2 separate regions of the Homo sapiens genome follow, and region 2 is reported to be linked to region 1. The links are microRNA targets in miRTarBase. Many come from high-throughput screens and were not tested one by one. Region 1 holds a microRNA gene; the other region holds the end of a gene's coding sequence.

The links. The annotated mature microRNA hsa-miR-6771-5p reads CUCGGGAGGGCAUGGGCCAGGC and lies in region 1 at 2,181-2,202, shown strand. An mRNA with a match to its seed (bases 2 to 7 or 8) in the 3' UTR can be bound and repressed. Matches are read on the target gene's strand: a 7mer-m8 pairs with bases 2 to 8, a 7mer-A1 pairs with bases 2 to 7 and ends in A, and an 8mer does both.
Region 2: the mRNA of TEX261 is a reported target of hsa-miR-6771-5p. Seed matches in the 3' UTR shown: 7mer-m8 at 829-835.

What each region holds. Positions count from the first base shown.
Region 1 is chr16:50,290,441-50,294,588 of GRCh38, forward strand. It overlaps MIR6771 (microRNA 6771), which reads left to right and starts at 2,176; the gene lies at 2,176-2,235. It overlaps ADCY7 (adenylate cyclase 7), which reads left to right. Exons shown (of 26, transcript NM_001114.5): 3 at 17-220; 4 at 1,296-1,457; 5 at 2,236-2,385; 6 at 2,914-3,062.
Region 2 is chr2:70,985,291-70,989,290 of GRCh38, forward strand. TEX261 (testis expressed 261) reads right to left here. Exons shown (of 6, transcript NM_144582.3): 5 at 3,625-3,727; 6 at 652-3,425. The coding sequence ends at 3,310. ANKRD53 (ankyrin repeat domain 53) reads left to right here. Exons shown (of 6, transcript NM_001115116.2): 6 at 1-209. The coding sequence ends at 10. Among named protein-coding and RNA genes, the nearest start is that of TEX261, 7.6 kb to the right of the region's middle.

The DNA.
Region 1 (4,148 bases):
TGTTTGCTCCACCCAGGACCCCTCCAGACACCAGGCCATTCTGGGCATGGCGTTCCTGGTGCTGGCGGTGTTTGCGGCCCTCTCTGTGCTGATGTACGTCGAGTGTCTCCTGCGGCGCTGGCTCAGGGCCTTGGCGCTGCTCACCTGGGCCTGCTTGGTGGCGCTGGGCTATGTGCTGGTGTTCGACGCATGGACAAAGGCGGCCTGTGCGTGGGAGCAGGTAACAGGAACTCTGGACTCCCTGCCAGCTGCGCCTTCAGCAGCTCCCATCCCCGTGGTTGGTGGGCATGCCACAGGCCCTTCGTGCCCCACGCTTGGCTGTGTGTCTAGGATGGCCCCAGGCTGGTTTTGTCCCTGTGAGTTCTCTGCATTGACAGGGCTGAGGTGGGGAGAGCATCCACTCGGACGCTGGGCTGCAGCACTTTTGGGTGGCTCCAGTTTGGTTGGAGATGACAGAACTTCAGCTCAAAGAGGCAAAAAGGCACAAACTGGTTCCTGTGTCAGGAAAGGCCAAGGGGTCAGTGCTGGGCTCCAGTGGGTAACTGGAACTGGGGCCTCTGGACAGCTTCGGCCCCGGGCACGCTGTCCCCAGGTGGGGGCAGAGAAGTTCACAGCGGCTCCAGGCTGCCCACCCCAGTTGAGAGAGAGGGCCCTTTCTCAACCAGCTCGACCTGCAGGCTTGAGCCACACTGGCCTGGCTGTGGTCATGGGCCCAGTCCCAGAGAGGCTGTCACCAAGCGGTAGCACACTCTGACCAGTGGGCCTGGGTCCTATGACAGCTCCTGTGGCTGGGGCAGGGTGGGGTGAGGCCCAAGGAAACCATGTGGACTGAAGGGGAGGGAGAGGGCAGCACTCCCAGAGGGGTGGACGCAGGACCAGCCGGTGGGGATGGTGGGGCAGCTCTGGGGGTGGAGGGAGGGCGGGTGGGGCCGCATTGCTGGAGGCAGCTGGTGAGAGGGTGCCTCAGCCTCCCGGTAATCATTTCTGCTGAGCGAGAACCACGTGGCAGGGGCACCAGGTGGGGGCTCCCTGGATCACGCGGGGCATGGAGCCTCCCACCTAGGGTGGCCACAGGCAGTGGATCAGCACAGGAAACCATGAACCTTGTGGCCGGGCCCACCCTAGAAACACATTATGGCTTTTCTTGTTCCCTTGTATGTCTGCCCACGCAGGGGGTGGCGAGGGAGCCAACCTAAGGATACGCACTGGGTGGGCTGCTGTGGTGCAGGGTTCCGGGGGCTGTACGGCCTGGGGCAGCATCTTGGGGCACCGGGCTCACCAGGCTGCATCCACAGGTGCCCTTCTTCCTGTTCATTGTCTTCGTGGTGTACACACTACTGCCCTTCAGCATGCGGGGCGCTGTCGCCGTTGGGGCCGTCTCCACTGCCTCCCACCTCCTGGTGCTCGGTTCTTTGATGGGAGGCTTCACGACACCCAGTGTCCGGGTGGGGCTGCAGGTGAGGGATGGGCTAAGGCCTCTGGGGGAGGTTTTGTGGTCTGGGTCTAAGGGCAGATGGGGGGGCCCCCTCTGGGTGAATCAGACCCGAAGGCCCCGGAGCCGTGTTTGCAGACAGCCCGCTCCAAGGCCGGGCCCTCTCCACGTCTGCTCGGAAGCTGGGCTCCAGGCGTGGCCCTGCCCTCTGGCCTTTGCTTTGCTGGCCTAGGGCTCCCCTGTGGCTCAGCCCTCAGGGTCGTGACCTCAGGCCTTGCCTCCCGGTTCAGGGACACTGTCGTGGGGTGAGTCCCATTGCCGAAGTTTCCCCTCGAAGGCCCTGTCCTGGCGGGGCTTGGGGGAGTACCCCAGGGCACTGCCTTGTGTCTTTGTGTTGAATGAGTGAATCTTCTGTTCATAATTATTGGGTGTTTAGAGAAGTGTTTTCCCTCTGACCAGGCCTGGTGTCCTCTCCAGGCAGAGGCTGGCCCTCCACACAGCCAGCTGGGCGCTGTGCCCTCTGGGACTGCCCTTAGCACGCATGCCCCTCGGGCCCTGGGCTCTGTGAGGTGGTCTCTTCTGCCTCCCTGGGTGTCCTGGTCTTGCAGTCCTAGTGACTCACTAGGAGACTAGCTCCTGTCTGGGCCTCAGTTTCCCTGTCTGCCCCAGGAAGAGTGCCATTCTCAGTGGGTTGAAGGTCAGGGAATGGGAAGAGGTGCCATCACTAGTCCGCCTAGGGGTCTGGTGCCTCGGGAGGGCATGGGCCAGGCCACATAATGAGCCAAACCCCTGTCTACCCGCAGCTGCTGGCCAACGCAGTCATCTTCCTGTGTGGGAACCTGACAGGCGCCTTCCACAAGCACCAAATGCAGGATGCATCCCGGGACCTCTTCACCTACACTGTGAAGTGCATCCAGATCCGCCGGAAGCTGCGCATCGAGAAGCGCCAGCAGGTGGGACCCGGCCCCCACTCCTCACCCTGTACACCCCTGTCCTCTTCCTCTTTCTGTTGGACATGAGACACTCATGCTGCCATGTGCATGAGGTGCATGGCCAGACACCCATGCAGGTCTCACCTCGGTGAGTCCTGGGCTCCAGCAGGGTAACCATAGCCTGCTGACCCTTGACTCTGCCTTCCTCTGTGTGGTTTCAGTCCTGGGCACGCAGTCCCCAGGTGGCGGCAGAGAAGGCCGTAGTGGCTCCAGGCTGCTCACCCATCAGCTTAGCCTCCCCAGCTGAAAGAGCCCTTTCTCAGTCACCCTGAGTCCCGGGGGCTGCTGGGTACATGGGAGGTAGATGCTCAGTTGGGTTGGTGGAGGACAAGAGCAGAGATGGGGACATTGTGGGCAGGGCAGGCAGGCAGGGAGGATGGGGGCCAAGGAGGCCAGGTCTGGGACCTGATGCTACCCTGCCTGTCCCCCGCTGGTCCCTCCGCCGGTCGCTTTGCTGGTCCCTCTGCTGGTCTGCCCACCCACACCCAGGAGAACCTGCTGCTGTCAGTGCTTCCGGCCCACATCTCCATGGGCATGAAGCTGGCCATCATCGAACGGCTCAAGGAGCATGGTGACCGTCGCTGCATGCCTGACAACAACTTCCACAGCCTCTACGTCAAGAGGCACCAGAATGTCAGGTGGGCGGTGAGACGTGTGATTAGCATATCCCGGGGACTGGGCCCACCGTTCCACCGGCCCCCAGGCGGCCTCCCCGCCCTATCTGGAGGCTCAGACCCCTGCCCATATAGGGATTGGGAGAGGGCCCCATGGTTCCAGGTCAATCTGGGGCCCTCCCTGGGTCTCAGAACCCCCACTTGTGGGCAGGATCAGATCAGGGCTCTTAAATTAGAGAATTTAGATTGGTATTGAAAGATCTAGCACACCCCCAAAACTGTAAAACTGTGTGAGCAAACATAGCTTTTGTGAAGGAAGGGGTCCTTTCAGATGGTTCTCAAGGGAGCACAGGACCCCCAGAATGAGGTAAAGCCCCCCGGCCTTGGTGCCCAAGAGTGCCCCGGTTCTGACACCTGTCTTTGGCTGATTTGCAGGGAACCACAAAATTTTACTTGAATGCACTGACCTGAGTTTGTCAAGTGTCGATGTGGGTGCTGGGTGCCGTTGAGTGTAGATGTGGGTCCCAGGAGACCCCCTGGGTCCTCTGCCTGCAGCGCCAGCATTACATCCAAGGCTGGCCCGCTGCCTTTTCTCTGGGCTGTGGATGGTCCATGAGCTTAAGGACTTTGGAGCAGGGAGAACTGGTGCAGATGCCAGCTCTTGGCTTCCCAGCAAGTCTCAATGTCCTGGAGCCTCAGTTTGTGCATCTGTAGAACGGGAGTTCGGCAAGGGCTGTGTGAGGACTCGATGCCTGTAAAGTGCTGGGTGTGGAGGTTGGCTTGAGGGAGCATGGAGCTGCCTCTCACCAGGGAGTTCTGAAGTCTGTGCTGTGGTGAACATTGGATGGGAAAGGGGAAGGCTCCGGGCTGCCTGCAGGAGTGCCCTTCGGCTGTCTGCAGTGATAGGGCCTGGGGTGGGGCCGAGGGCTCCTGTAGGCTCTGAATTTTGCTCCCTTCTGCTTTAACGTGAAGCCCCTGGAACTTTAATCTGTCTCTATGGCTGGGCGCGACTCTCCCATCCCTATGGAGGCTGAGGAAGGACGGGGGTGAATGGGCTCAGGCCTGGCAGGCTCCTGGGGCTCCAGACAGTCCTGCGTGCTCCTGCTGCTG
Region 2 (4,000 bases), not on the chromosome of region 1:
CAACCCATAAAGTTATTATGGCTACCTCTCCCCCTGAGGCAGCCCAGTGAAGGCTGAAGTGTGGCAATTCACGTTGTGGGTGGCGAGGAAAGGGGGAGGGGTGCCTATGGGCTTCCCACTCCCAAGCTCGAGGAGTCACCCTTCCCAATCAAAAGCCCAGACCCCAGGCCTCCCTTTTCTCTGCAAATAAATCTCTTGGCACCCCCCCACCGCCGCCAGGAAATCCAAGTTAGGTTGAGAGTGGGGGGTCAGACACTATTCTTCACCTTGGCATTGTAAAAGTTGTCACATTTTGGCACCCCCACTGCCCTCCCAGCCCTAAGGGCCCAGGCTTCCAGGATGGAAGGACCCACTGGGAAATTCTGTTTCTTGTTCAGATTAAGCCCTTCCTGCTGCAGGCTCTAAGCTGAGACCCAGAATGGGGTGGAGGGCAACTAATATGTCCCCCTGGCATGGGCTTCCCTGCTACTCTGGGCTGCCATCCTTATTCCCAGCGGCTACTGAGGTTTCTGCAGTTCAGGGAGGCATGGGCAGTACATCAAGGGAGGGGAGGGATGTGTGGTTTCCATTCGAGTCTATGAAAGCACTTGTACTTCCTCCAGGAAGTTAACTGGCTTCCCTGTATCCCCTTGTACACATCACTACAATTCATTCATTAAACAAACATTTATTGAGTGCTTTCTAGGTGCCAGGCACCAAGCCAGGCACTGTTAATACAAAAATTCCAACACAATCCTTGCCCTCAAGGAGCTTACAGTCTACTGGGGAGATGACCATTAGGCAGGCAAGTGAGCCCAGAGTGATCTGTGTAGTATGCCAGGGTGGGGGTCGGGAGGAGAGAGTATAGCCAAAGCTCCTTGGAGGAAGTCAAGTCTAAGTTGAGATTTGACAGAGAAAGTACCCTTTCTCTGTGACCAAAAGAAAGGAGGAATCAGAGTGGCAATGGAGAGCCACTGCATCTCTGGATACAGGAGGCTGGGACCCAGAATGCAAGAAGGCAAGTGATGAGACCAGAGAGGTGAGCAGGGACAAGGACACCATGAGTCTCACAAGCCATGCTGAGGGGTCCAGACTTTATCCTGAGGGCAGCAGGGAGCCAAGGAAGGTTTTAGGCCAGAGAGTGACTTGATCAACTATGCAATGCATTTTAGGAAGATAGCTCTGGCCACATGATAGAGAAGCAGTAGGAGGCTGTCACGATAATCCAGGTGAAAGCTGATGACAGTGGGAGTGGCTCAAATCAAGAGATGTTAAGGTAGACCTGACCGTTTTGAGAGATTGGATGTGGTGGGCAGAAAGAGAAAACAGGAATAGAATAAGTTTCCTGTCTGGCTCCTGAGTGATCTCGGGGTCAAGGGAAGTACCCAGAAGGGGCAGGTTTGCAGAAGACAGCAAGTACCATCTGGGCCATGGACCTGAATTGTCTGTGCACCTAGAGGGCAGCAAAACTGTGGTTCAGGTGATCAGGAAGGATGTTGGGGCTGGAGGTCAACTCTAAATTCCTCACCATCCTTGAAACCATCCAGATGGATGGGCTTCCCTAGGGAGCCCACAGCAGAACCCTGAAAGACCCTACTGTGCATGGGCAAGTGGAGAAGCCTGCACGGAAGCCTGAAAGGAACAGCCAGGGAGGTAGGACAACTAGCCACAGAGGTGCCAGGGAAGTGCCATCCAAGAAGCAAGGGGTGATCAGCCATGTCAAATGCTGCCCAGATCTAGTAAGACAGGAAAGGGGTCTGCTGGATTTAGCAAGCCCTGGGAGAACACTGGCAGTAGAGTGGAGGGGGCGAAGCCACATCATCAAGGTGAGGGACCAAGCAGCAGAGGGAGGAAAGTAGGGCCAGCTGTCAGCCCAATGGGAGGATGATGCAGGCTGCCAGTATCCCCTGCCTTGTCTATCCTGGTGTGCATAGGAGAAAAGGGCCTGGCAATCTCGTTCACACTAAGAGGAGACCAACATGTGCTCTTCCTCTCAGGGAAAGGGGAAAGCTGGTATTCTTAAGAGAAGGTAAATGCTAAAGCCAAGGAAATGAAGGGCTATGATGGAACTCCAGGCATGATATAGAGGAAATATTTTCAAGCACAGGGGTTTTTCCAGTGGCTTAAATGTATCACATGTGTACAGTTCATCTCTGTACCTGCCAGCCTCACTTTGAGGTATAGAACATGGCCAGAAATGGCTCTCATAGGGACTTCATTCCAATATGTACTGTTGAGCACTTGCAAGGCACTATAGTTGGAGTGCAAGGTCAACAAATGCAGGTCTGTGCCCAAGACCTGGCCTGCCTTCTTAGAAGGCAGATATATCTCCCCAGGAGCCAAGAGTGCACAGACGGGCCAGGGCTTGGATGCTCTTAGAGTGACAAACAGCTTCTCCCATTAGTCCCATTTCTTTAAAAACAGGCTGCCTGGAAGCTAATTTTTATTTTGTTTCTCCTTGAGCCTAAGATAGTATTCAGCCAGAAACCACTCCTTTTCCCAGAGGAAGATTTATAAATAGGATATTGTAGATGTTCTTCTGAAAATCTAGCCCAGTCCTAAATTGTCCCCTCTCCTACTCCCAGTTTGACAGTCACGGAGCCTTGGGGAAAGAGATGGAAGAGAGTGCATCAGAGAGGCTGCCTATAGCCCCACTTCCCACTCCTTGAGCAGGCTCAGCTCCTCACCCCTGCCCCCTTCCCATTAAGGGCCACAAGAACAGTCCCTTGGGAAGGGCAAGACCCAAACCCAGAAAAGGAGTCCCTGGAGCAGAAAAGTGAGTCCAGTCCAGAGCAGAAGGTTAGCAGGAAGAAAGGAAGATGAACTGTCAGGGTATTAAGGCAAACAGTGCCACCTAGAAGCGAAGCTTTATTCAAACGGAAATCTGCACTTGGACAGAAATCACCGTTCAACAGCAAAAACTATTTCTGTTGGACATGCCAAGCCATGGCCCCTCCCCATGGCCACCTGCCCAGAGAACTTGTCACCATCTGCTCTTAAGCTTCACAGACCCTGCCCTGCCTGCCCCAGCGGGGCCAGAACCTCCTGACCCACCTTGGAAGGGACAGGGGAGGACTGAGGGACCTCGGCCTCCTGGCTAAGCAGGCTCTGCCACCCTCCTTGGTGCCCTCTGAGGTTACAGCCTCTTGAAGCATCAGATCTGAGCCAAGCTGAGCCCCCCAAGGAGGGTGGGGATGGGGCTCCAGAGTTGAGGGGAAGAAAGCCAGGGCAGGTGGTAGGTGCCTTCCCGACTTCTGGTCCCCACCTGGCATAGAGGCCCAGGGGCCTGACTCTCCTGATCTTGCCCCCCACATCCTGCCTGCATGGGGGTCAGTATATCTTCTGACGACTGGGTAGAATGGCCTCTTTGATGAAGGAGAAGACAACCAGGATCCCTAAGCGTTTGCCCCGCTTGCCTTTGGTGAAATAATTGGAGACGACATCATCTGTGGAGATACAGGCAAGAATATGAGAGAGAGAGAGAGTGTGTGTGTGTGTGTGCGCATGTGTGTGAACACGGCCCTCCCAACCCCGAGTCCAGGTGTCTCCAACACAGGGCTAGATTCAGGTTCCCTCAGTGGACCCCTGCCAACCCAGGCCTTGCTGGCTTGCCCCCACCTGGGCCCCTTACAAATCCCTTCTCACCTCCTGGCTGCATGGTAGAGGGCAGGACGTTCTCCCCGGCCGAAAGTGACACAAAAAACGCAAACGGAATTATCCACAGGCAGAAAGTGAAATAGGCCAGGACCTGGCAACAAGAGAGACTGAGAAGAGGGTGCCCCGGAGGTGCCAAGAGTGGGCTGGGTGTGGTGACTGCGTGTTGGTCAAGAGTGCACAGGGGGCCACACCTGATCTCCAAAGGGGGCCCAGGCCTGGGAAGCAGGGAACGCCACCCTCAGACATGGAAATCCTTCTGTGGGGAAAGGTGGAGGCTGAAAATGACTGAATGTGGCCACAAACCCCATATCTTGGTCGCTAGGACAAGCAACTCCCCTGGACTGAAGGAGGCAGACAAAGTGCT